5 linked regions of the Homo sapiens genome follow. The protein of the gene in region 1 interacts with the protein of each later gene in a pairwise test. Each region holds a gene or a part of one and is shown in the gene's direction. Other genes may lie near its edges. The genes, in order: ANKRD1, MYL1, REPS1, ARHGDIB and MYOM2.

Region 1 (5,797 bases):
CACCCCCTCCCCCTCCCTGTCCCCCATCCTTCTCCACTTCTCCCACTCTTCCCCCTCCCCCTCCTCCTTCTCCCCCACCCGCCCTTCCCTCCTCCCCCACCCCTCCATCTCCTAACCTCGCCTCTCCATTAAAGTCATCTGGAGGCCCATGCTGTGTGCAGGCACCCTAGTGACCACTTCTCCCCCTCGCACATGTCTTGGGGTCTGGGACAGCCTCTGTCCTCATTCCTAGCGAATCAGCAGCGTTTTCCAATTTTCCAGTTGCTCAGCACAGCGCTGCATGTGGCGGTGAGGACTGGCCACTATGAGTGCGCGGAGCATCTTATCGCCTGTGAGGCAGACCTCAACGCCAAAGACAGAGTGAGTAGCTGGACACGCTCGGGTTTCCCAAAGCTTCATTGCTTTTGTATTTGGAATCACTCCCCCAAGCCTGGGTGCCCTTGCAGGACCCACTTCCTGGCCTCAGACCCACCTTGAACCTGTTGACTCTGCTTCTCTAGGAAGGAGATACCCCGTTGCATGATGCGGTGAGACTGAACCGCTATAAGATGATCCGACTCCTGATTATGTATGGCGCGGATCTCAACATCAAGAACTGTGTAAGTACTGGAAACAAGAAACACCGCTTGCAAGCTTTCCAATTTCCAGGAGCATTTCTTAAATAGGTGAAACGACTCCCACAATGGCAGTATTTGAGGGGTCTTCGATGGTCTAAATGCCCCTGCCCATTTCCCCAAGGACAGTGTTTATCTTGGCTAGGACCCAGTTCACATGGCCAGAGATGAGGGAAGTCATAGATACTGCTATGACCTCAGTGCCTGATACAGTGCATAGTAATTCTTTTACAATTTGGTCTTGGAAATGAAAGATAGTCAAAATTTGCTCATCCCCACAAACACCTAGAAGTCCAATCTGCTTTGGCCATTTCTGTCTGTGCAAGGGCTGAGGAAGTTAGAAATAAAGGCATCCACCATTTCCAAAATGTCCTAAAATTCCACAAGGGTCAGTGCAGCCAGTGAACTAAGGTTAATCAATATCCAATCTGAGTAATTCAGAAAGTCCCTTTCCTCCTTACAGCAATGTGAAATGTCACCATTTTCTTCCAGGGGTAGCTGTGCTTTTGCCTGTATTTTTTTTCAGATAATTTCTATCCATTCTCCACTTGGATTTGTCTTCACATCTCTCAAAATAATTTCCTATATTTAGGCCCTGAAAATTCTTGTATAAGTACATATTAATTTAACTTCATCTGTAAGCAGGGAACATAACCAACTTTTCCTCATGGTCTCAATTTCCAGACAAACACCATCTAATATAAGCTTAAAAAATATTGCCCAGAGGAACAGGTATAAATTTCTGAAGAAATAATTTTAAAGAAGCTTTTGAAGAATCACTTTACAAAAAAGAGTGGGGGGGGGGGGAGGGAAACTCAGTCATCATATAAATGCAAATAATTTTCTCCCCTTATTTGTGTTGCAAAGACTGAGAGGAATATCTTATCTTTTAAAACAAATCTGGCTTGGTGACAGGATCAAAGAATGGTGATAAATGAAGATTGCTTGGGATGGGAAAGTGTTAACAGTAGGGCTTCCTCAGTCTAGATATTGGAATTGATCCTATCTAATATTTTTTTAAACTATCAGAAAAAGAGCAGGTTAAATGAAATCTTGAAAGCTGCAGAAAATGTGAAGATTTTTTTTCAGGCAGTGAGACACTACCAGCAGAGACAAATAGCATACAGGTTTAGGGAGACTGTGTAAGTAGCCAGAAAAATCACAATATAAATTTCAATGGAGAGAAGTGCAAGGAATTTATGGAAGAGTAGCCCAAAATATACAAATACGGCTTAGGGTTCTGAATTATCAGTTAGATATTAGCATCAGGTTTATGGAACTATTAATGTCATTGACCCAATGGATTGATGTTTCCCCCAAAGATCAATAACCTATTGATGCCATCTTAAGGAGATTGGGAGCAGCATACAATATTTTCTCATTATCCAAAACTGTATATTCATGTCTACTGATGATTGTTCCTAGAGAAAGACACTACAGAGGTGGGGAAGTTCCAAAATGAAGGTTATAGGGCCACTAATTTAAATACCTACAGATCTCATAATCTGACTGCAGACTGACCTCACTGTGCCGGGCAGATGGCCTAAGTGACTTCAATGTGTGGCTGTCAGGGTCTGTGCACATAACTCTTTTAAAGGTGGCCCTTCCCCAACCCAGTCTATGTTGCTCTGTGGAACCATGGGTACCATGTTTTTAACTCTTCTGATTTTTTCATAGAAGTCACAAATCCAGCTCTTGGTTTCCAACTGTTGCCAATTCATACTAATCTTAAAAAAAATCTAAGTTCTGTTTGGGTCAAAACAAAACAGGTCTCTATTCTGGTTTGCATCTCAAAGCTGCCAATTTGCAGTCGCTGGGTTAAAAAGAAACTTCTCAATGAATAGAGATGGAAAAATTTTGGACTTCTCAGATCTATAGATGAGAATTGAGAGATGACATGGTTTTAATATTTTTAAATCTTGAGACACGTGCATAAGGGAAATCAAAATTTCGTCTCAAAAATTATTTGTTCACATGTGTCATTGCCATCAACTCCAAGAAAAATACATTTCCTGGGAGAGTCCATTGAAAATTCTGACAAGTTATGAAAAATCTGCTCCCAGGAACAGTAATAGTACCCAAGCAGTACCTAAGTCCTTAAGCCAAGTTATTGATGCAGCTCATTTACCATCATTTCTTATCAATCAAAGAACTATCATTCAAATGGATAGGCACTGATTCTTGGTCCAAGAGGCATGCTCCCACCTCCGGGAGTCCATTCCACAGGATACTGGAAGATGTATGGAGACATTTTATAAATTTCAAAATGACTTGAGGTGCTCTTGACACATAGTGTCTAGGGACAAGGGATTTTACCAATACCTGGGATGGTCCCACGTGAAAAAGATTTTTGCTCTAAAATGGCAAAAGCATCCCTCTGAGAAACAGTGAAGGACTGGTTTGAGTATAAACTGCAGATCACTCCTGGTGGAAACCATAAAACACTGTTATAACATATACCTAATCCTTACCTCATGAAACACACACAGAGAATGTGAATTTACAGATGTCACCCACCTGAAAGTCAACTTTCCTTATCTCATTTGATTAGGCTGGGAAGACGCCGATGGATCTGGTGCTACACTGGCAGAATGGAACCAAAGCAATATTCGACAGCCTCAGAGAGAACTCCTACAAGACCTCTCGCATAGCTACATTCTGAGGCAAACGACAGACTCTTAATCAGTAAATGTTCACTGGCATTTTGAAGGCATGGCCCAAGAGAAGAGACACTAGCCATAAAATCTAGTTTCTATTTATCAACGTGTTGTGAAGATGTACCTAATGAAGTTTTGAGAAAGCACAGGGTTATAGGTGTTTAAATTTCCTTTAGTGAAACTCTTATTTATTTTTATGTATTCCTGTTTATTTATTTACTGCCACGCTACTGATATTCAGACCTTCATGATCATCCATCTGGTGAGCAGAGCTTCATTTGTATATAACACTTTCAGAGCCTTCCCACCCATAGGTAGTTCTTAAACCAGGTGAAAGAGCAAAGTTCAAGTGCCTACTTATGTGTCATTCGCTCATGTAAGAGTTTTTAAGAGAGGGCTGATTATCACAGCCCTCTTTTCTCCTGAATTTTTAATGCAGAAGTTTGAATGAAGCAAGGGAAGGCATGTAGGGACAGGAAAGGAAACAATGGAAGGAAAGTGATTCTGTGAAAAGGACAGTGAAGCCAGCTATTTTACCCCCAGGCTGGATTTTTTTTTTTTTTTTTTTTTTTTTTTTTTACCGAGTACACAGAGTACCCAAGTGAAGAGAACGTCATGAGTGTAAGTGCAAATCAGTGGAAGGAGCGGCAAACTGGGACATGCAGAATTGAATTTGCTCAAAAAAGATGAAAGGAAATGCAAACTGTAAATGTATAAATGTATATTGTATTGTATGTACATTTTATATTCATAATAAAGGCAATCAAACTCTAAACCTCTAAGTCCTTCTATAAGTGTGGTGGAAATGTCCTATGTGAAAAAAAAAGCTATATAGGAGGGTTTTTTTTTTCCATTGTTTTCCAAGTTTTGCAGATTAGAAATGTCCCGTACAACAGCACTCCCAGTATTTAATATGTATACAGATCACCTGGGGATCTGGTTAAAATGCAGATTTCTGATTCAGCTGGTCTCAGGTGGGGCCTGAGATTCTGCTTTTCTGACAAGCTCCCAGGTGACAGGCCACGAAATGCCACCACCACACTGAGCAGCTAGGCCGAGAGCCATAAAGACACAAAGGAATTCTAGCGAGCTTTCAGTCCCAGTGGTGTGTAGAAAGAGACCCCTGGTGGTCAGAATGATTTCTGCATGGTAAACCCGCATTTCTTACGAAGTTCCCATTAAGGCTTAACTAGTGACTTTTTTAAATTTAAATTTTAAGTTCTGGGGTACATGTGCAGGATGTGCAGCGGTGTTACATAAACGTGTGCCATGGTGGTTTGCTGCACCTATCAACCCATCACTTAGGTATTAAGCCCAGCATGCATTAGCTATTTTTCGTAATGCTCTCCTTCCTCCCACCCCACCCCCTATACAGGTCCCAGTGTATTTTGTTCCCCTCCCTGTGTCCATGTGTTCTCATTGTTCAGCTCCCACCTATAAGTGAGAACATGCGGTGTTTGGTTTTCCGCTCCTGTGTTAATTTGCTGAGAATAATGGCCTCTAGCTGCATCCATGCCCCTGCCAAGGACATGATCTCATTCTTTTTATGGCTGCGTTGTATTCCATGGTGTATATCTACCATATTTTCTTTATCCAGTCTATTATTGATGGGCATTTGGGTTGGTTCCATGTCTTTGCAATTGTGAATAGTGCTGCAATGAACATATGCATGCATGTATCTTTGTAGTAGAATGATTTATATTCCTTTGGGTACATACCCAATAATGGGATTGCTAGGTCAAATGGTATTTCTGGTTCTAGATCTTTGAGGAATCACCACACCATTTTCCACAATGGATGAACTAATTTACATTCCCACCAACAGTGTAAAAGTGTTCCTATTTTTCTGCAACCTTGCCAGCATCTGTTATTTCTTGACTTTTTAAGTAACTGCCATTCAGACTCCATCCATCTGACAAAGCTCTAACATCCAGAATCTACAAGGAACTTAAATTTACAAGAAAAAACAACCCCATCAAAAAAGTGGGCAAAGCACACGAACAGACACTTCTCAAAAGAAGATATTCATGTGGCCAACAAACATCTGGAAAAGAAAGCTCAATATCACTGATCATTAGAAAAATGCAAATTAACTGGAGATTTAACAATTCTTGTGGACAGGGACTGGCAATGTCAAAGACTTCCCAGGAGAGAACACACAGGTCCATGATTTTTGACCTCCAGACCACCATAATAAAACTAATATCACAATAAAGTGAGTCACAATTTTTTTTGGTTTTCTAGTGCATACAAAAGTTATGTTTACATTATCCTGTGGTTTAATAATTGTGCTATAGCACGATGTCTAAAAAACACTGTACCTACCTTAACTTAAAAATACTTTATTGCTAAAAAAAATGCTAATGATCATCTGAGCCTTCAGTGAGTCATAATCGTTTTAATGGCGGAGGGTCTTCCCTCCATGTGGATGGCTGCTGACTGATGAGGGTGGTAGTTGATGAAGATTGGGATGGCTGTGTCAATTTATTGAAAGAAGACAACAATAAGCTTACCACATCAATTAAC
Region 2 (6,557 bases), on another chromosome or scaffold:
GATACTACATTACGAATACTCACGATGTTTCCTTAGGCTTTTCAAGGCAGTAAAATCTTCTCAAACAGTCCTTATTTTGGTAACATTGACAATTTTTAGAAGTTATTGTCAGAAATTTTGTGGAATATTCCCACAATTTGGATTTAGTGGGTGCTTTTCTTCATGATTAGACTGGGCTATGGGTTTTTGGTGGTCAAAGACTACCTCAACCACAGAGTCAAGGTTAATATCAAAGCAATGTCATGCTATGCTAAGAGCAGGTACCCTTGATATGTTAAGAATGGTACTTTGCCTTTGTGATTTCTACTTTGAGAAAAAAATTCTATACCAACATATTTTCCTCTGTGCATTCATATATCAGTAATATATATAGTTAATAACACAAAGGGATTTAGGTATATAGTAGAATCAGACAATTTCCCTTCATGTTATGAAATAAAGTGTTCCTATTTCAATTCGGGGTATTTGAGTTTTTAAAACCAAGATCATTGGTGACATTAGTAATGTAAAACATATGTTGAGTGAGTGGATAAAACATATGGATTAATATATTTTATATTGTTTTAATTTATTTTCCAAATGCAAGGAAGACAAAAATATTTTTGCCCAGAACACATAAATCTCCTTTATCTGTTTAACCTTGTCACAGATTTTAAGGGATTTGTGCACATGAAACAAAGTATTGATAAAAACTATGAGTTAAAGCAAGATATATCTATCTCTCAGTAATTGCAGAAAATCCCAATCTATCTTTGAATGATCCAAAGGAAAACTGGTGAACAAATTTCTGCTATTTATGAAGGTATTTCTGTTATAAACATAGCATTATTTTAAAAATCTATCCTGATTATTTAAATATGAGACAGTATTCTAGGTAAAATATGTTCAGATTCTTCTGACTGTCCTGTATGTAAAAAATGAGTATCAGCAGCTAAATTTAGATAATGATTGAGTCCTTGATATGGGGAAACAAAGGAGGGAGCTATCAAAATGTTTTTCCTGTAATATACATGGATAATATAATTCAGTAGATCGTGCCACCATGTGAAAAAGGAGACTGATTAACTGTGGGTCAATTGTAACTTAGGTGAATTATTTCTGATCTGAGAGTCTTAATCTTGCTTAGTTGTAATATATGGACAGAAATAGTGACCTTCTCCAAGTTGGTGAATGCTTTTATATCAGACCCAAGAAAGTGGCTAATTAATCTGTATCTTTAAACACAACTATATTTAACAATTAGAATATGTGTGTATTTACACATACATTTGTACACATGTATGGATGTATATATACACACATACAGTAAATGTATATATGTATATATACACATACAGTAAACATATGTGTGTTTGTATATATATCCTTTATATATATAAAATGTATAAATGTGCTCTTTTAAAACCCAAACTATTTTTTTAAACTGGTTAATAACTACTCATTAATTAAATATCTCACAAGTTAAAACAACAGAGATGAGAGTGGGACTGAGAAATAACTGATTACTAATTGTAACCCCCTCTCTGGCAGAATTTACCACATACAAAGTTATAAAGTGCCCATTGGTGGTCTTAAATTTCTCGATATGAGTCTAGCCTTGCAAACTGAGGAAACCAAGGACAGAAAAGGAAAAACTTTCAAGTTACCACAACTTGCACAGTGTTGATAATTAAAGTTCTTCTCTCTCTTTATGTCTCTAAAAATGTATTTTGTCTCTCTAGTATGGACAAAAGATTTATGTGATAAATAATTAGACTTTACACCATTTAGAAAATAAATATCTATAAGTATCTACTTTTCTTGGAAGCTACTTTACTATTAGAAAAGTTGTTTTGCAAGAAGGTAAATCTTGCTGTCATTTCCATCCATTTGATATGCTTCATTAAATTATACAAAGAAAATTAAATTATAGGAAGTCATGTTGAAGTTTTTTGGCATAGAATTCACTACAATTAAAGGAGAGAAAGAGTGCCAGAGTCTGTGCTCCCTAGAAGGGAAGCCACTTTAAGACATGATGGGCTTTCCTTATACGTCTGCTTTTTTATTTTTAACCACCACCACCTCTTTGCTGACCAACATTTCCTTGCAAATTATGGCAAGGGGGGAGGAGCATGAGCAAAGGAGCTGTGTGAAAGTTGGTGATACTCCCTGCCAAAATTCCAAGTTGAAATGGAATCCTTCAGTAAAGTCTCTTAGGCAAGGTGGGAAAAAAAGATTTACAACTTCAGCAGAACTGTAATTCTACCAAGAAAAAGTACAGTCAATCTACCTCACTGTCACCAAAGGATCTGAAGCTGGCTTTGTCATATATCTTTCTCCTTTATATATGGAGGTGGGGGGGGGAGAAAAAAAGGAAAGAGAGTTAAAAAAAATTGATGAAGCCCTGACCCTTTAGATTCCATTTATAGTCTGAGCCGGAATGCCATCCCCCTTGACTAGAGAACTGTCCAATCCAGCCGCATGTGTCAAGATTCTATTAGGCACTAAGTGAAATATATATGCATGCCCTTATGCCGTTTAACACTCTGGGTCCATCTTCAAGACACTGGGCTGTGGATCAACCCAACCACCACTCCTCTTCCAAGAATCATTTTGACAGGTTCTTTTGGAGGAACTCCTTCTCTTTTTAACCCACCCTTTTAAAAAAAAAAATGGCACCAAAGAAAGACGTGAAGAAACCTGTGGCTGCGGCTGCGGCTGCCCCAGCCCCGGCACCGGCACCTGCACCTGCCCCTGCCCCAGCCAAACCCAAAGAAGAAAAAATTGACCTCTCTGCCATTAAGGTAACTAAATGGATGAACTGTTTGGTCACTGAAACATCTTTCAATAGTAAGGATCTCTAGGAACTTGCAAAGGCGTGTATTTTTCATTGAGAGGAATAGCATTATTTAGTGAGCTGGTAGATTATGAAGAAGAGAATCCTGCTTTAAAAAATGAATGCCAGCATATAATTTCAAAAATTATTAGAGTATGGTATCATATGTGAAGCCTGTGCTTGCTCTATTTTTTATTCTCAAGTTTCCATTTTCTCCTAAATTGCACTTATACTGTTTAGGAGAAAAGTATATATGCTTAACAGTGTTGCATTTAAGAATATTTAAACCAGTGTTTGGGTTTAAATAAAATCTCTCTGGAAACCAGATCCCTTACTTACAAATTACATCAAAAGGAACGTTTTAGCCCCTACTTATTTCCAGAAGTTTAAAAACAGCTGATGGCCCGGTTGTCCTTTATGTATTTGACAGTTACTTTCCTTCTTCTGAAAAAGAAGATTTTTTGCAATTCAAGTTAATTCTCCCTTCAGCTTTGCCTAATAAAATTTGATACAACACTAAATGAGATCTCAGTGCAGAAAATTATGCACTCAAGTGTTTCAGTGACTGTAACTGTCATCTTGTTTATTTATACACAGTATTTAATTCAGAATTTGTGAGTTTCTTCTAAATGAAACTAACAAAAATAATTATAAAATTTGTTATTTACATGGCTTTTAGCTTATGTCTTAGAGTATTTGCCTACTGATCTTGGACTAAGAAAAATGTGATTAATTATTGTGTTAACACTTTGCTGTGATCAAAGTTCTCAATTGCCAAAAGATTATCTGCTTTTGGAAAAATAGGTACGTCTGTTAACTTCCAGTGATGTGACTCATTAAATGTGCACCTTCTCTTCATTCACTGAGTTCTGATTGGCTCATATTACAACTTGAAAATTTTTATCTAAGGAAACCTGCCTTATATGGAAAATCAATGAGCAATAGTACCCATGAGGTGAACTTTTCACTTAAGCCAAAAGTTGTATATGTAATAAATCTCAATTTTGCCAATTTACCATTGTTTACTTGTAACTATGATGCTGACCCATAAACAAACATTTCATTGACCATTTAATATAACTATAGAATTTTTTAAGTCCCAAAAATATTTAGTTAGATCACCCTTAGACATTATGTAATGAAGTTAAATATATTTATAATTTATATAACATTCCAATTAAACATGAAATTTTGTTTAAAGTATAAGTAAATTATCACGAATATTTAATCTTTAGTTTGTAGGTATTTGAAGTATTTGAAAAAAATTGGTCATGGAATATAATATTAAGAACTATTCTTAATGGATATCCATTTAGGAGGACAAAAAAATGCATGTCAGGTCTTCTGATAAATGTTTTTCTAACTTGAGGACTGCATGCATACAGTTCTTTAAGAGGAAACCAAATTTTTCATCTCCAGCAATCCTAGTTAATGTATCCTTTATAGATGCATACTGTCTACATTACACAATAAGTGAGATCATAGCCATGATAGTAATTCTGATTGTCCCTCATCTTTAACTCTGCACTCTGTAGTAACATAAGAGATATGAATCAGTGTCAAAGCTAGTCCTTTATTTATTGTGATTTATAAGACAATGTTACCTGTTTGTATCTGGTATTACAAACTTCTGTAAAGAAAAGAAAATGTACCTCTTTACCTAAGAAGCAAATGAAGTATCTAACTAATGAAAACAGGCATTAATTTTCTTCCCTGAGGAACTGTGTAAGAATGAGTACATAAATAAAAATTGTTTGGCAGGTGAGAGATCTCCAAGAAAAGACAAAACATCTCTTTTCTAATCCAGAAATTAAGCCAATTACTTGTTCATAGTCAGCAGAGAAGCAACACTTTTCAGAATCTTGAAAATTTGTTTATTATTCTGTCAATATGTTAAATTGACATATTGACATTCGTCTGTCAATATGTTAAATTGAGTTGTACAAGCTTAATATTGTGTAATATTGTGAGGATACAATATAAGCTTATACAACTAAGCAAAAGAAGGAAATACCCCTGGAGTGTCTCTATGAGAATTGGGTATGCTCCATCTTTATTATTTCATTGCAGAACAAGAGATGTGATGGATTCTAGTAAGGGACACAAATCAAAAAGAAGTTAAATGAATCTGGAAGAAACAGGAAAAAAAATAACCTTTATCTTCCATCCAGAAGGCCCATTTGCAACAGAGAAAAAAAAGAGAAACAAATGGAAACTAACACACTTTTGTAAAGAAATGTAAATATCTTCAATGCTTTGCATTCATTAATATGAAATAAATCAGTGCATATTTAGATGTATTCTAGCATGGCCAAAGAAAGTGATACAACTCAAGAATTTTATAAACTTTAATTTTATCCCAGGAGGTAACAGGCCTAATTAAAACATACATTAAAACATTTTATATTATGATGTTTTTAATCACTTAATAATGTTTCTAGATATATTACCTCATAAAAGCTATACAATTTTTTCAAGCAGAGAAAATGAACTTTAAAGAAATTAATAGAGCTGTTATATGTATTCATTAACTTTCTGAAAATTCAATAAAGAACAAAACTTAATTGGATTATAAACTTTCTTTCATAAATCAAAAAAGATTAGAAACTTAGCTGTCCTCTAGACTTTGAGTAATGCTGTAGTTTAATCATAACTGCCTTTGTGTAGTACTATAGTCATAGCCATGGTAAAATTTAATTTCTCCATAGTATTCCCAGCTAATATCTATGTTTCATATTGTAATATACTACATTTAATAGCCATATATTTGATTCCCCCATAAATCTTGAATAATCTTGAATATAATTAATTAGTTTTATCAACTGCTTAAATGTGCTTTCCAATCTGATTTCCTGGTTTGTTAGTTATTAGTTTACAACATTTCTTCAATTGTTCTGACACAAATTTTATGATACTCTCTGAAGGAATGCTTACTTGATGTCCAATCCTAATGGATTTTCTATGAGTACCCTTTTCAACAACAAAATACTGTTGATATTTGAACACTAAAGTTATTGTCCTTGGTGGTTCTAAGCACTCTTTGCCTTCAGAGAGCTAATACTCCCAGTAATCCAGAACAAAAGAACACAGCCTAAGAGAATCACAGTTACAGGAATTAAAACACAGCATAAGTATGGTTGTAGGTTCAAAAACAAGAATATGCATTGCTCAAAACTGCAACCAAGCAAAATAATGAAAGTAATAACATAACCATGTACCTAGATTGTAGATCTTCAATGTGTAAGTGAATTTTCTGCATGATGCATGCATTATATGTCAGTATTGCTGTGAGGTGATAGGATTGTGAATCATGTCTCTCACTGTGCTGTTTGAGTTTTAATTCTCGTATTCACCACTTAATCAGGTCAGCCGTGACTAGATATTGTGAGCGATATTATAAAACGTGGTAAAGGTACAGAATGCATTGACAGAAACTATCAAATAACGAATTTTGCATCAACAATTGACCACATGCCTGGGAAGATTTAAACTTTCAATTTAATATGTAAGGTAGAAATCTAATGTTCCCAAATACATTTACTTACTGATGGGTATTCAGTGGAGGCAGATAGTTTTATACGCATTGTGGCACCCAATTTGTTTTGGCCCAGGTATAGGATTACTTTTGTTCATCTGTAAGTTCTTTTTTCTCATTTCCAACAAAGCTAATATAAATCCAGTTTCCTTTAGAAGAATTTCTGAGAAAAATCAAATGAAGTCATGCTCCACGAAAGGCTCTGAA
Region 3 (6,051 bases), on another chromosome or scaffold:
CATATGCTCTCTGTTGCATATTCTTCTTCTTGTGTTTACAAAACACAAAAATGTAAAGCCATTCTTAGCTCAGGGAGATACAAAACAAAGCCTGTGGTCTGCTAACGAAGGGTGCTGGTAGTGTGGTCTATGGTACTCTCCTGTTACAGCTTTGGAGTAGGACTTAGAGATCTGGTCAGAACATGCTCATTAATCATACTCTTTTTGCTCCTTTTGAAGAAATAACAAAGTATACCTTCAAGTTAGGATCTAAATAAAATTAAGGAAAAGCCTTCTCTGTTCTATTTTAGTTTGTCTTTGAGGTGAGAAAGAGTTGAAATAAAACTTTCAATCTTTTTAATGGGTACACAAAGACTTTAGAACTTGAAATGTAATTTTTAGGACAGACACATTAGCATTAATGAATCTTTACTTCAAACATGTTTAATTCAGTGCAAGTTATTTTTATGTTTTGCTCAATTTTATTAACATTCAAAAAATAAATTTCCATTGTCTTTTGGCATAAAGAGAGAGCTTAAATATTCAGGGTTCAGTTACAAGTTGGAACTCCCTGGAGCAGAACTCTTACAGTTATGTATACTAAATAGCAGTCTAGATATCTTGAAGGCAATTTACTTAAAAATTGGTCTAAGACATAGAAATATGAGACAAAAGGAGAATATGTGCTTAATTCCCTTAAGGGAGTTTGGGATTGTCTGAAAACACAGTCCTCCATTGCTTTCTAAGTGGGAAACATTTGGGGCAGCTCATATCTAATGCTTAGTTCTCTACTTAACACTGGGCTAGGCATTGCAGGCATCAGAAGAGGAGTAAGAAGCTCTTGAGGATCTTGTCAATTATAGGAGTGCTCATGTATAACATAAGGTATAATGTATGCCATAGGAGAGGTGCCAAGTGTTATGAAATGCTAAGGAGGTATGACCAAGAAAGGCTTTTTGACTTAATTCAGATGGACTTTAAATTAGGGTGGAGTGAGGGGAATGGAATTATGAGGGCTTCCAGGCAGAGAAAAGTGATCAGAAGTGGAAAGTGTAGGAGCCTTTTCAAGGACTAGTGTTTTCGGGATAACAGAATATAAAATTAGAAAGAGGCCATATTGGGAAAGACTCTGAAGAAGGGCAGCAGATAACGATATTTCAGCAAGCAATGGAGACCCATTGAAAAGTTTTTGACTTTGAGTGGCAGAAAGGGTAAGGAATGACACTCTTTCAGTGGTCTGGATTGGGTGCTAGGTCATGGACATCCAACCAGGGTGACAGCAGTAGAATAGAAAGGGAGAGACTGGATATGTTATTGAAGGACTGCTGGGTAGCCACTATATGAGGTGCTTTGTGGAATAATGTTTAATTGAGGCCAGATTATCAAGGTTGGATGGAGAGCTTTGAACTAATTGTGTAGGTAACAGGGAGTGGTAGATTTAAGAGAAATGACTCATAAAGCAGTGCTTTAGGAGTCGTTTGTCAGGGCCACAGGAATTAGAGGAATAAAACTGTAGACTTAACTTGGGGGCTGATTTTGTATGGCAGATACGAAGTGAGAAACTGGGCCAGTGGTACTCAAACATGGGAATGAAGGTGACAATGGGGAAGAGGCATTTGGCAGTGTCTAGAGACATTTTGATTGTCATAACTAGAGGGGAGAGAGCAGTTCTACTGGCATCTAGTGGGTAGAGGCCAGAAATGTTGCTAAACATCCTGCAGTGCACAGGACAGCCTCCACAAGCATTATGTGCCCAAGATGTCAATAGTGCTGAGACTGAGAAACCCTAACCTGGACTATAGTGGTGGGAGTGGGACAAAAAATCAGATATGGGCCGGGCACAGTGGCTCATGCCTGTAATCCCAGCACTTTGGGAGGCTGAGGCAGGTGGATCACCTGAGGTCAGGAGTTGGAGACCAACCTGGCCAACATGGTGAAACCCTTTCTGTACTAAAAATACAAAATTAGCCGCATGTGGTGGCGCATGCCTGTAATCCCAGCTACTCCAGAGGCTGAGGCAGGAGAATCACTTAGAACCTGGGAGGAGGAGGAGGTTGCAGTGAGCCAAGATCGCGCCACTGCACTCCAGCCTAGATGACAGAGCAAGACGCTGTCTCAAAAAAAAAAAAAAAAAAAGAGAGAGAGAGAGATGGTAGAGATTATGAAGGTAAACGTGATAGGCCTGGGTTATTTGGCAGTGTTTTGGTGAGAATACAGTGGGGCAAGGATTATTCTTTGGACACCACTCACAGTTAGAAAAGGGGCAGGAAGAGGGCTTACTTTTTAAAAGAGACAATGATGAGTTTGGTTTCAGACATTCTTAGATGGCAATTCAGATCTCTTGGAGACAGTGGGAAGTGGGTGGAGATTTGTCCACCCCAACTGCTGGTTCTTACAGCAGTTCAGGTTCAGAGGTTCGGGATTTCTTCCTCTGTTTTGCTCACCTAAGTGTTTAGGGACGGGAGACAGTGTCACATAGACTGGGCATGCACATACATATCAGGACCTTGGTTGGTACAGTAGTTTTCGGTGTTTGTTAGTAAAAGTTAGGAGGAGACTGAGTCATCTGGGGGCATGAGTGTAGAGAACAAATAACACCGAGTCCAGAACCAAACGAGGAAGGAGCTGGCATTTATCGAGTGCCTATTATGTTCCTTTAACCAGGCAAATCATTTTCATGGAAGAACTCATTTGATTCTTGCAACAACCTTGTGAAGTGGGTGTTATTCTTGTTTATTTTTATTTTTATTTTTATTTTTTGAGACAGTCTCTCGCTCTGTTGCCCAGGCTGGAGTGCAGTGGTGCAATCTCGGCTCACTGCAACCTCCACCTCCCAGGCTCAAGCGATTCTTCTGCCTCAGCCTCCTGGGTAGCTGGGACTACAGGCATGCGCCACCACCACACTCGGCTAATTTTTGTATTTTTAGTAGAGTCGGGGTTTCACCATATTGGCCAGGCTGGTCTTGAACTCCTGACCTTGTGATCTGCCCACTTCAGCCTCCCAGAGTGCTGGGATTACAGGCTTATTCTTGTTCACTAAGAACTTGATAGCAGATAAGTTAAATAATTTATTTGTGAATATTCGTATCTCTCCCTTACTATTATTCACGTCCCAGCTCTTACCTTCTCTGGTCATGTGGTTTGGGAGCAGGGTGAGGAATAAAATTCAGTTGGTCTGATTTTGACTTCCCCATAGTTCTTATGAACAGTAGGGATTTTAGAATATCTGATTTTGTGTTACGTATCAACTTACTCCTTTGCGTAGTAAGTAGTTTAATGTATGATGATGTCTTGAAACACAGCCACTTCAGAGAAAGAGGGAGATTCTTGTAGTTGGTGTTCAGGGCACACACAAATACAATTTTTCTTTATTACCACTGTCAGATGTTTTAAGGTGTGTTCATTACAGTTGCTTTTGAATAGCAGAGGAAAATCTATTCTGAGTTTAAGAGTTTGTTTTTGAAGACAGAATGTCAATAGACAAAGTGAAGGAGTGCATGCTTTGTAAAATTATGCTCCATGCCACATAATAGCAAGATGAGGGGGAGAAAAATCTGGCTCATAGGATTTAATCATGAGGAATTTTGCTGTCTGCCGAGCAAGAAAATATTCAGTGTTGTGGCTTAAAAGTCAGCTTTTCCCAAAGTAGTTTATTTTGTTTTTTAAAGATTAGGAAAGATATACTATTTACCACACTAATCAGAATGTTTTCTTAGCTTTTACCAAAAGCTTCTGTTTTGGGAAATGTCTTAAAACTTCATACAGACTTTGAATGCATAATAGATTGATAAAGGGTTCTAGTACTAACTGTTCTTTCATTGAGGTTTGTAAGCAATGTACCCTGTTAATGAAGCTGAAAATCTTTAGATCATTTGTGTAGAGCAATATCTTGTTAGAATATTTGCATAACACATAAATTTAATGGGGAAAAGCAATAACAGTGAAACAAACCATTTTGTTTTTGTCTTGAAACTTGTTTAAATCAATTACAAGATCTGGCATTAGTGATAAGTTTAAAAATAGGAAAGCAGAGCTCATTTCTGTGTTGAAAGTTATAAACTTAATAAGTCTCAGGTTTGTTATTCTGGAGTAGTGGTTTTTAGTTCTGAATCACTAAAATAATTGTAATAAACTACAGAAATAATCTTGCCATAATCACTTACCTATACACAGTTGAAAAAGATACTGTTTGTGAAAGAAGTCACAGTCAATGTGTTTCTGTAGTGTCCTATTTATTTACTTTTAAAATTTCTGTCTTCTTGAGTTTCTTGTGCTAGTTTCAGTCATTTTGTTTGTTTGTTTGTTTGTTTTAATCAATAGCCCAGAGTTAGAGTTTTAGTATATTGGGAATTCGTGCCAAACATTTGATGGAGCGACACAAGAGCATGAGAAGCTGGTATAAAGAGCACTAACTGTGGGAGGCAAGTTCCAGTTCTGGCATCAGCTAACTTTGTAACCCTGAACAAATCACAGAATGTCTGATATAGCTATGGGATTGGGTTTTCATGATTTCTGACTCAAATGAGAGTATCTTTGTGTAGGAGCGGCTAATCTATTCCAGCCACACCCCTTTAAAAGTAGCACAAAGTCTTGTGGTTAGTTGCTCCACTATCTTGACACTGGAACAGGATTATTTGACATTCTTTGAGGAATACAAAGAGGAGATATATACAAGAGGAAACTGATGAAAGGGTCATAAATCCATGGGTGCTTAGTTCTTCAAGGTCGTGAGAATTTGAAATGGGTGATAAGACTTGTCATTTCTGATGTTTTCCCTTATATAGGTTTTATTTTCTGTAGCCTTTCCTATTATAGATGCATCTTCACTCATCTTTTCCCTCTGTGTAAGAAATTTGTCTAATGGAAGTTAAACTGTATACCAGATTTCATTGAGATTTGATAAATTCTAAGACTTAGGCTTTTTAAAATTAAGAATACTACATCTCTTCTGCATTTTGTTTCAAGAATTAGCCAGGTGTTGAATTTGGGGTCTGTCTCATTAAATAATGAAGACAGAATTTATTAGTCTGTCTCTTTTGGGCTGTTGATTCCGTTGAGATTCTGCTGCACGCACTGGACATCTGCTTAGAAAACATAGTTCCACAGAATTTTGCACTTAATTTGTGATTTCCAGCCTTCCCCTAATTGAGTCAAGCTCATCTTATGGACTTCTACATTAATTCAGTTTTAAGGAAGAGCAGGCTGACCTGTGAAATGCTAAACACTTCTGTCTTAAATCAGTTTTAAATACTTTCAACAAAGACTTCTTTGTGGCTGTTCTTTGTATTGGGGGTATACATGCAGTGGTGAAGGATCAAGACATCTTCTCTGACTTGTGCCAATGTCGAAAAGAAAAAGAACTGGCCAGGCGTGGTGGCCTGCACCTGTAGTCCCAGCTACTTGAGAGGCAGAGGCAGGAGGATCACTTGAGCCTGGGAAGTTGAGGCTGCAATGAGACATAGTAAACATAGTAGTGTCATTGCACTCCAGCCTGGGTGACAGAGCAAGTCTCCGTTCCCCCCCCCCCCCGCCCCACCCACAAAAAAAAAAGGAAAAAAGAACTGTGTACAATAATAGAGAATCATTGGGTGGTAGAATCAGAGGAGGTAGTGGGGACCTACTTAGGTGTAAGGGAAGGCCCCTTAGAGGATGCCTGGATGGGGGGTCAGGGGAGGGAGAATAAGGTGTTTCATATAGAGAGAACTGGGAAGGGCCTGAGGCTGTGAAGAGCACAGTGTGTTTAAGGAACTGAAACTGTGGACAAGAGGGGAGAATGGCAGGGACTGCATAAGGCAGGCCCTTGTACTCAGTGATAAGGAATTTGGATTTTAGTGGAAATATACTAAAAGTTTTTATTCGGGGGTGTAGCATCATCTGAATTATATTTTAAAAGATCATGCTGACTGCTGTATGAGCAAAAAGAATACTGGGGGCAAGTGGAAGCAGATACGCTAGTGGATATGCAACAGTCCAGGCAGCAGACAGCAATGGCTTAGATTAGCGAGGTGGCAGTAGGATAGAGAGCAGTGGACATCTGTGAGAATTTTTTAGGTGGTAGAAATACGAAGGCAT
Region 4 (6,051 bases), on another chromosome or scaffold:
GGAGATTGGGGCCTTCAAAGGCAAGTTTTTAGTGGAAAAAAAAAATAGTTACCAAATGAAAAAATTGGACTCTTGTGAGACAGACAAAGCACAAGTCTAGAACAGTTGGCTTAGTTAGCAGCAGAGTAGTTCCCCTCTCACAGGACACAGCCAGTCTTTACCTTATATGGGCTTTTTTGTCAGAGGGAGGAAATCAGAGGCTGAGAAGGCACACTTCCTGTTCAACTGAAATCATTAGAGCAGGCACACACACACATTCAGCTACCCCGACATGCTGACATCTCTCCAGGAGAGAAACTCACGCTCTCTCACCAGAACTCAGAGTCTTCCTAATATTACCAGGTACAGCTGCCAGTTTGCAAGATAAGGTCTGAATTAGCGCTAAAGAAATCTGTTCTCTTCAGCAGGACCTGGTAGTATTGCAAGGAAAACTTGGTCTCTGTCCCCTTTCCCAGCAGAGGAAAACCAAATTGGGTTTTCTGTCACTAACAAGCTGCTATGCATGAAGAAAAGCATAGAGAGTGATTACCTCCTTAATCAGGGTACAGGAATTTGGGACAGATCCTGGTTTTATGGAACCTGAAGCTTTTATAACTTCAGTGATATTCCTTAAGAAAAATAGTATGAAATTGCAAATGAAAATACAAGAGTAAACACAAAGGTGAACATTTTCTTAAAGTGATAAAATGAATAAAAACAAGTAGAATTTTAAAAGCTAGAAAATGCCACAAACATCACCAAATCTATAAAAACAAATAGCTGACACTCCTAAATACTATTTTTCTTATATGTTTTATTTGAGGGGTAAGGGGCATATTCTTTAATAACCTCTTCATTTGACCAGTAATATAATTCTCAATGAGAGAATAAATGGACCAAAAAAAGATTTATCTTCACAACTCATTATTTGTAATGTCTTGTGTATTTTTAGCATTGTCATCAAACTTGGGGGCAGGGAAACTCTCATGTTTTTCATAACAGAGCTGTAAGATTTCAGGCATTAAGTGTGTGTGTGTGTGTGTGTGTGTGTGTGTGTGTGTGCAAGGACTAAACTCAAATACTCTGTGAATTGAGGGCCCTGTGAACCATGTTGCCCTCGTGGGCCCAACAAATTTTTCCGGGACTTAAAAGTCATTTATTAACTTGTGTATCTGCTTTTGAGGATAAACTCTCTCTAAATCTTCTTCTACAGGAGATCTGGAAGCCCTCAAAAAGGAAACCATTGTGTTAAAGGAAGGTTCTGAATATAGAGTCAAAATTCACTTCAAAGTAAGTATCCTGCCTTGTGTGTTTTTGTAAAGTTTAAATCTTTTCTTTAATCAGTGACTACATTTCTTGCATGATCATGTTGAGGTACTTTTTGTTTGTTTCTCCCCTAGTACCCCCAAGCTGGGTCTGGAATGTCCTCTTCCCAGCCCTGAGGGCTACCTGTTGAGACCCACGTTTGCCTCCTGTCTTTTCCTAGCCAGGACTTCTTAAACTCTTCATTATCTCTTAAGCCAATGGGATCCCTCTGTGAACTCCAAACACATCCTCGAGGCACACACTGCTTTGTGTTGTACCACCTGTGTCATTTCTTCTTCATAGAATATAAGCACCTCAATCTAGGGTGAAATTGTACATCTCTCCTTTCCAATATTTCACACAAAACTTTGTAAATAGCATATAGTTCATGAATATATATTGAAAAGTGGACAAACAAGTGAATCAACCAATAGGAAAAGAAAATGGGACAGGGCCTCAGCTCTAATTGCTCAAGGATTATATAAATCCAGGAAGTGTGATCTTTGCTAAAGAACTGGAAATTACAATTATAGTTGTGGAACAGGTAACCAGGAAAGAGGAAACTAAATAAGAAATAAACTGACATCTAATATATCCCAATGAGCCATATATCCCAATGAGCAGCCAAAATCACAAGAAAAATAACTTTGACTTTGAAAACAAATAAGTTAGAAATGCAGTGTTTGCACTTCGTGGTTTATGTTTGCTTTGGTGGCCTCTCATTCCCACTTAGCCTCAGTCTCCAGGGCCTGGGCTCCACCAAGGAAGACTCCATCTGCTCTCTCTATTTGCACACTGGGAACTTTTTTCCCCAAGGTACAGGATATGATTCAGGGTTTATGGATGACCTCCCTACCCCATACAAATATAACTGAAAATAATTTCATCCTGGAAATATTTGTTGATGCCTACTCTATAATGGACACTGAGCTAGGGTTCACTTACTTGTTTCCTGTCATATTATTTATTATTGGAGCACCTGAAGGTTTGGTAAGGCATTATATCAAAATATGCCTAGAATGGGTTGCACATCAGTTTCATTTTTAATCATTGATGCTATTGCATTAATTTGTCTATTTGGTAAACCAGGTTTCCTCAAATGAAATGTGACAGGTAAATTTTGACGTGACTAAGATGCAAAGGAAAGCTCTGGAACAGGGGCTTCTCCTCTGGATGGGGAGGTGGAGGAGGAATGTGGTATGTGGGTCTGTGTGGACAGGTTTACACATTAGGATGATGCAGGAGGAGGCCACAGAAAGGGGCTTTTGAGTACTCTCTAATTCAGAGGTTTGATGGCTCTCTGGGTAACCTACGTAAAGTTGAACCATCCTGTGGCTTGTCCCAGCATGGTGCTACAATTAGAAGAAATGCCAGATCAAAGTCAAAAATCCTTGAAAAACAACTTAAATCTTCACTGAAGTCTCTTGAAAAATGTCCAAGAAAGTTTGCATTTATAACACAAGTAACACATGTTAAGTCCTCTTTCACAATCTCTGTTAGTTGCACTCAATGTTCTTTTTCTCCTCCCAAACTTCTTAGCACTTTCTAAAAACCTGACCTACGATTGTTATTTTAGGTTCTTCCCAACTTTTTTTCTGCCTCCCAAGGAAATGTGGTATCTCTGACTTCCACAGCTCTCACTTTGATTCATAACACCAAGGCTTCTTCCCCCTGGAGTGGGAGACACAATAGGGATGGGGATGTGGGCAGAAGAAGAGGATTCTATGAATATTCATAGTTTTATTTCACCCACCCCAAATGTATTTATATTAAATGGACCCACTGAAGAGCGCTGGTGAGATGGTAGACTCTTTGTCTTGAAGTCCTTATTGCTACACCAATATAATTCTTCTTCTTAGGTCTTTCTCCCACTAGGTGAAAGGGATAAGCTTCGGGACATCTAGAAAGGTGCATTTATTTTCCCTATTCCTATGAGCTACATTTGAGACTCACAGTATTAGAAAGCCTGGGCTTTATCACAGTCTCTTTGATGATGCTAATTTTTTTTCTGACAGCTTTTCATAGGTTTATACTACAGATTTACCCTGTGACAGTCAAGAATCTAAGCTGGCAGAGTTCACTGCTCTGCCACCTCCCTGCCAACAAAACAAAAGATAGCACTGGTTGATTGGTTGAACTATTGTGTCCAACACAAAAGGACAGCCATAATTATTGTTGAAGAAAAATTATTTGAAGATGCTTTAATTCTTCACATTGGTGAACAGATAACCAAGCTCTTCGGCTAATGATGCAATGTCCACTTTAATTTGTTTGTATAGACATAACGACTGTGTAAAATTAACAGACAACCCAGGTCAGTCCCAGGTGAAATGAATCATGGAAAAACAAAGTTCTTGGGCTGTCCACATTTTCATTCTGCGTTACTGAATTTTCTTTGAAAGGCTTGGGAAAATAGCAAGATCTCAGACAACGTCTGAAAATGACAGACATCCAACATACTTGCCAGATACAAGTGAATTTCACCCATTATTTCAGTTATATTGCAGTCACAGCCATCTTCTAGACATGAATTTTCACTTTCCTCCTTGTTGTTTGTTTTTTATATGGTAAGTGGATCATCTCTGAGGTTGTGGTTTTTAGATATTTACATAATGTGCTCTATTGGTATCTTCATAACTTTTCCTAAGACAAGGATGGTCTCTTGGTCAGCAGTATTGGAGAGGGAAAGCTCAAGGCCATTCTTGGGACCATTGAGAAAGGAGAAATACAATGAAGAATATTGGGCCAATGTTTTAATGAACCACTCCTCTCTCCCAAAACGGTAAAAATCAAAATGTTCGATAATTAAACCAGTTTGGCAATGTTGCATTTTATGATTTCCCCTCTCTAATCTTTGCCTCACAGCCATGCTAAATAATTATAGAAACACCAATTCTGAACTAAATCTTTAGTTTTTTCATTGTCAGAGACGATTCAGCTAGGCAGGATCAGCATGAAAGATGAGAAAAAATGAAAGACCCTCTTAATCTGAACATCTTGGTTCCTTCCCACCTGCAGGTGAACAGGGATATTGTGTCAGGCCTGAAATACGTTCAGCACACCTACAGGACTGGGGTGAAAGGTAAGGGAACCCACATTTCCACACTGTCCCAAACTGCTTCTCATTGATACTTTAACTTCTGGTTATTAGCAACTTTTAGCTATAGACTCAGATGAGAATACAATAAAAGCTGTGGATGCCGGCTCTAGGAAAAGGCACAAATACACCTCTGATATAGACATTGACAAGGCCAATGCTCAGGGGACCTCGTTTAGACTGCATCAGCTGCTAACGTTCAGCAGTCAGCTTTTTGGATTCAATATTATCACTCGTAAAGGAGAAGAGTAACCAAGATAAGTTTAAAGGAAATAAAGTATATAAAAATACTCTACAAAGTAAACAACCAAAAAAGGCAGTTCACAGGTACAAAACCCAAGTGTCAGAGAAAACCAAGAAAGAAAAAACTTGCCCAGTGCCATGTGTATCTGGGGTGGGAGTAGGTGGGGGTGGCATTGGAGGGAAGGGGGAGGCAATGCTCAATTTCCTAACAAAGAAATAGAAAAAAAAATATTTTCTAGGATTGAAAAAGCCTGTCTAATTAAAATAACACAACAACATTACTTAATCTGCAATTCTTCTTGTCATGCCTTGGGACCCTGCCTTCAATTTTCTTTCATTAATATAGGCAGGGAGAAATGAGAGGCGGGAAGGTGATGGAGGCACTTTACAGTTCCTTTCTACCTAAGGGTCTGTCCCCTCCAGAGGCAAGAAACAACAAAGCATGTCTCAGTTTCCACCAAATTAATAAGCAAGATAGGGGAGAAATTGTCTGATAAATCTGGATGACATAGAGGACCAGTCAATTTCTCAAATCCCAGAGAAGACCATTGACCTGAAAGATATTGATTGGCCTTTCCGATACCTAGTCTCATGAAAAAAAAGTTTAATTTCCTATTTTCCTTTGGGCATAAAGCCCGTATCACCTCACTTAGACAAAAGGACAGTGACATGTCTGCAACTGTTTTTTCAAACTTATTAGCAACACTTAGCCAACTATATGCCACCTATCTGCCTATGTATACTTTTCAATGCCCAACTATTCTTAATATATATTCCAGTTAACCACCTATAAATAAACTTGATTGGCTATTTTCACCATTTGTCCTAGTTCTTCACTTTTTTTTTTACCAACTTACTGCTGTTGTTGTTCCATCCAGTTATTCTATCCATGAATTCTCATCACCATCTGTTACTTTATCTCCCCCAACTGATATGTTCATAGAATGACAGTTTGTAGATAGAAGATCCTTAAAGTCCATCATATACACAAAGAAATGGAGGCTCAAAAATGTTATATGACTTAGGCCATTGCAGGACTGAGATCAGAACTGAGGTCTCAATTTGTCTGAGTTTTTTAAAATGGTGTAATCTGCTATATCTCCATAAAAAAAACAACAACAACAACAAAAAAAAAAAAAACAGGCTTAATCCCCATTGATTTAGGCCACTGGTTCCCCAACTTTACCTCAGAATCAACTTTGTAGTTTTTTAAAAACACTGATCCCTGGGACCCACAGAAGGTTACTGAACCATAGCCTTTGGAAGTAGGACAAAGGAAACTATATTATTAAAAGGCACTCCAACTTAAAAAATGTTTTAAAGAATAATTTTTTTAAAAAGATGCCTCAGGGCCAGGTGCGGTGGCTCACACCTGTAATCCCAGTACTTTGGGAGGCCGAGGCGGGTGGATCACCTGAGGTTGGTAG
Region 5 (6,051 bases), on another chromosome or scaffold:
TCGTGTGCGTGTGTACCCAGTGTTTAGCTCCCACTTATAAGTGAGAACATGCAGTATTTGGTTTTCTGTTCCTGTGTCAATTCACTTAGGATAACAGCCTCCAGCTGCACCCATGTGGCTGCACAGGACATGATTTCTTTCCTCTTTATGGCTGTGTAGTATTCCATGGTGTGGGGGCACCACATTTTCTCTCTGCGGTCCACCATTGCAGGGTTGAGTCCATGTCTTTACTTTTGAGAACAGTGCTGTGATGGTAATACAAGTGCATGCATCTTCTGGTAGAATGGTTTATTTTCCTTTGGGCATATACCCAGTAATGGGATTGCTGGATGGAATGGTAGTTCTGCTTTAAGTTCTTTGAGAAGTCTCTAAACTGCTTTCCACAGTGACTGAGCTAATGACATTCCCCCAGCAGTGGATAAGCCTTCCCTTTGTGGACCCATATTCTGATGTAGGAGAGGAAGCTCTCCTATAGACACCTGGACTGCGCTCGCTTGGGGTCGCAAGGGCCTGAGGCCCATGACGCCCTGGGGGCTCCCACCACAAACGCCCGGGGCAGATACAAAATAGCGGCTTTTCACTTTCACCAAAATGAGAGAAAACTCCTTCAAATATGAGTCTGATTTCTAGAAGTCTGGGTTGCTATCTGAATTTTCAGCAGGCTTACCAGGGTCAGTGTATATCCAACTTTTACTACCACAAAACTACTTTCGAAAAAGGCGTTTTATCTCTATGTGAAAAAATAAGATAAAACATGTAATCAAGGTTTTTAAAGTAATTACAAAAGATAAAAATTAAACAAGCAGTATATAAAATTTGGGAAAGACAGAGAAGTTACATGGAATGCAATTAAAATGAGCAATAATTCCACCATATAAAATAGCCACATTAACGTGTGGTACATATATTTATAGTCTTTTTCTCCATAGATTTTAATGCTCTTGTTGTATCATACAATTTGCATTCTGTATTAGATTTCACAAAATAACATAATTCCTCTTATTAGACTAAAGATCTTTATACAATAATTTAAATGGCCATGAGGTTTTTAATCTATGAACATATCATCATGTGTCTGACCGTATTGACAGCCATTTAGATTGCTGTCATTTAATCACTACTGCAAGTAGCTGCAATATGGTAATAACTTTAAATTGAAATGCGAACCACTGAGTTATGACAGAATTTTATGAATATACTTCTAAATTATCTTTCATTATTTGCAGGTTAGTTCTATTTTGCTAAAACTACTACCTATGTATTGATTCCCTTATGTTTTCTATGGTTTAATTATTTACTTTAATGGAAAAAAATTTATTAGTAAACATGATCAACTTTGGGTATTTGTGACTTCCTTCTCCAAATTGGCATCATGTTTCATAAAACTCAAAAAAGATGCATGACCATCCTTTGTGTGCGAGACGCAGCGGGCGCGCCTGGTGGTCCTGGGATAGCGAGAACAGAGCATTTCTTCCTCCTCCACACGCCTCTGGGGACCTCGCGGTTTTCACTGCCAGTCTCGTTTCTGTTTCTCTTTGTAGTCCGTGGTGGGGAGCGGCAGCTGGCAGAGAGTCAACGCCCAGACGGCTGTGAGATCCCCGAGATATGCCGTGTTTGACCTCATGGAAGGGAAGTCTTATGTGTTCCGAGTGCTGTCAGCAAACCGGCATGGCCTGAGCGAACCTTCGGAGATAACGTCCCCCATTCAGGCCCAGGATGTGACCGGTGAGCTGTCACACTGGGTGGCCCCAAGTCAGGATGGACTAAGAGTGGGGTGACACCAAATAGCCTTAAATTGTGTGAATAAAGACATTAATGTTATAAACGAGTTGAAGTTCAAGTGGACTTAAAACTTCACTTTACGAGAGATTAAGAGCTCTCTGCCATGTTTTGTTTGGTTCTTGACATTTCTCCAAAGCTCCATCTTCTTTTCATGAAACCAGTAAGTGAGTTGAAAAATATGTTTAGGAAACGGTCACTTTTATTGTTTTATTTAAACTTTTAAAAAAACTTTTATTTTAGGTTCAGGGGTCCATGTGTAGGCTTCTTACATAGGTAAACTTGTGTCATGGGGGTTTGTTGTAAAGATTATTTCGTCACCCAGGTACCAAGCCTAGTAGCCATTAGTGACTTTGCCTGCTCCTCTCCCTCCTCCCACCCTAGACCCTCTGATAGTCCCCCGTGTGTATTTCCATCTATGTGTCCATGTGTTCTCATCATTTAGCTCCCACTTATGAGTGAGAACATTTGGTATTTGGTTTTCTGTTCCTGCATTAGTTTGCTAAGGATAATGGCCTCCAGCTTCACTCATATTCCTGCAAAGGACGTGGTCTTGTTCTTTTTTATGGCTGCATAGTATTCCATGGTATATATGTACTGCATTTTCTCTATCCAATGTCATTGACAGGCATTTGGGTTGATTCCATGTCTTGGCTATTGTGTGAATAGTGCTGCAATGAACATTCGCATCCATATGTCTTTATGGTAGAATGATTTATATTCCTCTGGGTATATATGCAGTACTGGGATTGCTAGGTTGAATGATAGTTCTTTTTTTTTTTTTTTTTTTTGGCTCTTTGAGGAATCATGACACTACTTTCCACAATAGTTGAACTAATTTACATTCCCACCAACAGTGTTTAAGTGTTCCCTTTTCTCTGCAATGGTCACTTTTAAAGTAATTCAAATTTTAAGTGCACTAGACTTTTTTGTTGTTGTCTTTTTTTAATTAATGCTTTTTTAAAAAAATTTTTGTTTTGTAGAGATAGAGTTTCACCATATTGCCCAGGCCAGTCTCGAACTCCTGAACTCAAGGGATCCTCCCACCTTGGCCTCTCAAAATGTTGGGATTCCAGGTGTGAGCCAGGGTGCCCAGCCAGGCACTAGAGTTTCTTGCCCATCTGGCTTGAAGGTCCCTCTTGGAAGGTTTCAAATACAAATTACAGAAATTTTGAATTGCAATCCCTGGAGTCATAACTCCTTCGTGGATGGCAGTTAACTAGCATGTAAGCGGAGGCACCCTGGAAATCCCCAGAAGCCTTCACGGGAGGCACATTGGTGTCAGGAACGCGGTTCTGAGTGCCTGGGTGCCCTCCACCCTCTCTCTGTCGTGTTTCCTGAGAAAGCCAGATACGGAAATGAACAAGGTCACGAGGCCGGCTGCCTCCAGGGCATCCTCAAGTTTCTATCTGGCTCTGGTTTTAACTGAAGCTCTTAGAACTCATACCCAGAACCACAGGCTTGACAAGACCAGCTGTCTTTGAGCAAGGCCCTGCCTTCTTGTGCTTTATGACACATATGAAAAATGACAGTGTCCATCACTGAGACACACTGTGGGGTGTGTGGCCCAGGTGGCCGGCACGGAGGACACAGGTGGCCCCAAGGCCTTACCTGACCTCAGTCCGCAGTCCACTAGTGGGGCCTGGCACCACATGACAGGATCTGATGGTTAGGTCATGATCGAATTTTGAGTGCCCCTCGGAGATTTCAACAGATCTGATAAAATTGAGTCTTACTTTCTTAAAATTGGTTAATTTCCAGTCCAAAAAATAGTTGTTACCCGGGTAGCCTCATCCCTGCTGCCAACAGAGAGTCTTTTAAACAGCTCTGATGGGAGACAGGAGGATTCAGGATGGATGTCATCCTGTGTCTCTAGGAGTTGTGTGGAGCTTGGGAAGAGATCAGAGAGACCAGCACCTCCCAATGGCCCTCGGGTGGTCGGCCCGGGGCTCCTCTCCTACTCCTGGACCCCTTGTCTGAATTTCTTCCAAAGCCCCCAGTCTGGCTGTCCAGTTCCCTGTGAAAAGGGCCGGAAGATCTCTGCTGTAGCTTCCAAAGCTCTGATGCCATTTCACCACTCCTTTTGTCTCCTACGAAAAGTTGTCCCTTCTGCTCCGGGTCGGGTTCTTGCTTCCCGAAACACCAAGACGTCGGTGGTGGTGCAGTGGGACCGACCTAAGCATGAGGAGGACCTGCTGGGCTACTACGTGGACTGCTGTGTGGCCGGAACCAACCTCTGGGAGCCCTGCAACCACAAGCCCATCGGATACAACAGGTGCGGCCTCCCTCCCCAGCCCTGGAGTCAGCCTTGCAGGAGTAGCAAGACCGTTGAGGTCCCTGTGGCCCTGGCACAGGGAGTACCATGGCCGCAAGGCTTCTGCGTAAATGAGTCTGTCTTAGCCACACACAAGGGCTGTATAATTTTAAAGTTTGACCACTTGGATGAGCTAGTTACTGCACTTGCTCATGTCGACCGAAACGATTTATTTATGGATGAAAGGAGAGTTCCAGAACCTGTTTTTTTTTCCCCTGACATAATTAGCACTTAGGCCTTTTCTTTGAATAGCAGAGTTAAAAATAGTGACTACGATGTGAAAGTCGTTTTATTTTTTTCGTATTGATTTTTTTGAACTTGAAAGTTGCTTTGTTCATGTGCCTGGTAGTTCTATTCCCCAGCACCTGATGGAGACCCCACCGGGCGCCGACTCTTCGCTTGTGGTGGGGGCAGCCTCGGGGGATGCTGGTTGCTTTGCAGGGGAAAGCCAGTGACCCTGCCTTTGGAGAGACTTGCTCCTGCTGCCTGCTGAGTGTGCAGGGATGTCTGAGGTTATTAGGCTTCTCTGCGATACGCGTCTTAGGAAAATGTCAGCAGCTGTCAGAACCACCCTTGTGGATAGATGATCAATTATGGCTCAGCCATTTCTCCTTTTAAAATCTGAAAAAAATACACTGTAAAAAGTGGTGGCTAACAAGAAGAGATGTCATTGAAAAGAATAACAATTAGATGTTCTTCACAGCCCACAGCAAATGCAGAAAGATCGATCAGAATAAGAAACTTAAAACATGATTCCAGTACAGGGAAATGGTTAGTGAATATTTATTGACTATATATGATAAATAATAATTGCTTACACGGACTGAATATCTATCATACACAAAGCATCTGTGCTAAGTTGTCCACCTAGAGTTTTCCATGTAGTGCCTGCAATAGTGCTGTGGGGTGGGAATTATCATCCCCATCTTACAAATAGAAAAACAAAGTCTTACAGGGGTTAAGGAGGTTGATTAAGACCATAAAATCTGTGAGGTTTCAAAGCCCCAGTATTCGAGCCTAGTCCATCTGACTTCCAAGTCTTGGCCTGTAACCACTGCAGTGTAATTACTGCTAATTAAGTTTTACATACACGGGTTCTTTTAGATAAGAAATGGCATACTGTTGGATAATAGACCTCTGATCCAGAGGAGGCCCAGAAAGTACAAAAGCAAAGGTGAACTCACAGAACAAGTGGCTTTGGCACCACGTGTAGTCAGCTCCTGCTATAATTAGGTGCTGTGACCTTACTGTCGGACTCTACATGTTGAGCTAATTAACTAGAATTGAAAATGAAGGATGTATGTTATCCATAAAAATTTTTTATGGCGCGTTCAGGGTGATTTTTGCTTCTGCTGCAGGAGAGAAAAAGTGGAGCCTGGCAGTTCTGACCCTGATCCCTGTGTTTCTCAGGTTCGTGGTGCACGGCTTAACCACGGGAGAGCAGTACATCTTCCGAGTCAAGGCGGTCAATGCTGTGGGGATGAGTGAAAATTCCCAGGAATCAGACGTCATAAAAGTGCAGGCCGCACTCAGTAAGTCACTCACAGGCTGTTGTGTGCCGATTGCTCCCATACACTGTCATTTCTGCATGAATAAACATTTGTGATGCCATTTGGAATGTCATTGAAGGGGAAAAGGGGACTAAATTCCTGAACAGAGAACTTGAGTTTCTTTGAAGCCTCTCGGTTGGCTGCTTGTCTTGGAAATGACAGTGTGAGAGGGAGAAATGATAATACACTAATAAAACGCAAATTAAAAATAGAAAACATTGTTGTTGCCAAATACCTGTACTCATGTTAAAATATATGCTGTAGGCTGGCGCAATGGCTCATGCCTGTAATCGCAGCACTTTTGGAGGCCAAGGTGGCTGGATCATGAGGTCAAGAGATTGAGACCATCCTGGCCAACAAGGTGAAACCCCGTCTCTACTGAAAATACAAAAATCAGCCTGGCATGGT

What was found.
Region 2: the proteins of ANKRD1 (region 1) and MYL1 interact in a two-hybrid assay, tested with the Homo sapiens proteins (one large-scale study listed by BioGRID and IntAct).
Region 3: the proteins of ANKRD1 (region 1) and REPS1 interact in a two-hybrid assay, tested with the Homo sapiens proteins (one large-scale study listed by BioGRID and IntAct).
Region 4: the proteins of ANKRD1 (region 1) and ARHGDIB interact in a two-hybrid assay, tested with the Homo sapiens proteins (one large-scale study listed by BioGRID and IntAct).
Region 5: the proteins of ANKRD1 (region 1) and MYOM2 interact in a two-hybrid assay, tested with the Homo sapiens proteins (one large-scale study listed by BioGRID and IntAct).

What each region holds. Positions count from the first base shown.
Region 1 is NC_000010.11:90,910,345-90,916,141, reverse strand, and holds the end of ANKRD1 (ankyrin repeat domain-containing protein 1), read left to right. Parts: intron 1-261; coding exon 262-360; intron 361-500; coding exon 501-599; intron 600-3,165; coding exon 3,166-3,276; 3' UTR 3,277-4,046; downstream 4,047-5,797. UniProt on the Homo sapiens protein: May play an important role in endothelial cell activation. May act as a nuclear transcription factor that negatively regulates the expression of cardiac genes. Induction seems to be correlated with apoptotic cell death in hepatoma cells.
Region 2 is NC_000002.12:210,311,137-210,317,693, reverse strand, and holds the start of MYL1 (myosin light chain 1/3, skeletal muscle isoform), read left to right. Parts: upstream 1-2,519; 5' UTR 2,520-2,651; coding exon 2,652-2,783; intron 2,784-6,557. UniProt on the Homo sapiens protein: Non-regulatory myosin light chain required for proper formation and/or maintenance of myofibers, and thus appropriate muscle function.
Region 3 is NC_000006.12:138,980,143-138,986,193, reverse strand, and holds part of REPS1 (ralBP1-associated Eps domain-containing protein 1), read left to right. Parts: intron 1-6,051. UniProt on the Homo sapiens protein: May coordinate the cellular actions of activated EGF receptors and Ral-GTPases.
Region 4 is NC_000012.12:14,943,091-14,949,141, reverse strand, and holds part of ARHGDIB (rho GDP-dissociation inhibitor 2), read left to right. Parts: intron 1-245; exon of another isoform or gene 246-342; intron 343-1,192; coding exon 1,193-1,269; intron 1,270-4,302; coding exon 4,303-4,366; intron 4,367-6,051. UniProt on the Homo sapiens protein: Regulates the GDP/GTP exchange reaction of the Rho proteins by inhibiting the dissociation of GDP from them, and the subsequent binding of GTP to them. Regulates reorganization of the actin cytoskeleton mediated by Rho family members.
Region 5 is NC_000008.11:2,088,467-2,094,517, forward strand, and holds part of MYOM2 (myomesin-2), read left to right. Parts: intron 1-1,541; coding exon 1,542-1,725; intron 1,726-3,879; coding exon 3,880-4,054; intron 4,055-5,503; coding exon 5,504-5,625; intron 5,626-6,051. UniProt on the Homo sapiens protein: Major component of the vertebrate myofibrillar M band. Binds myosin, titin, and light meromyosin. This binding is dose dependent.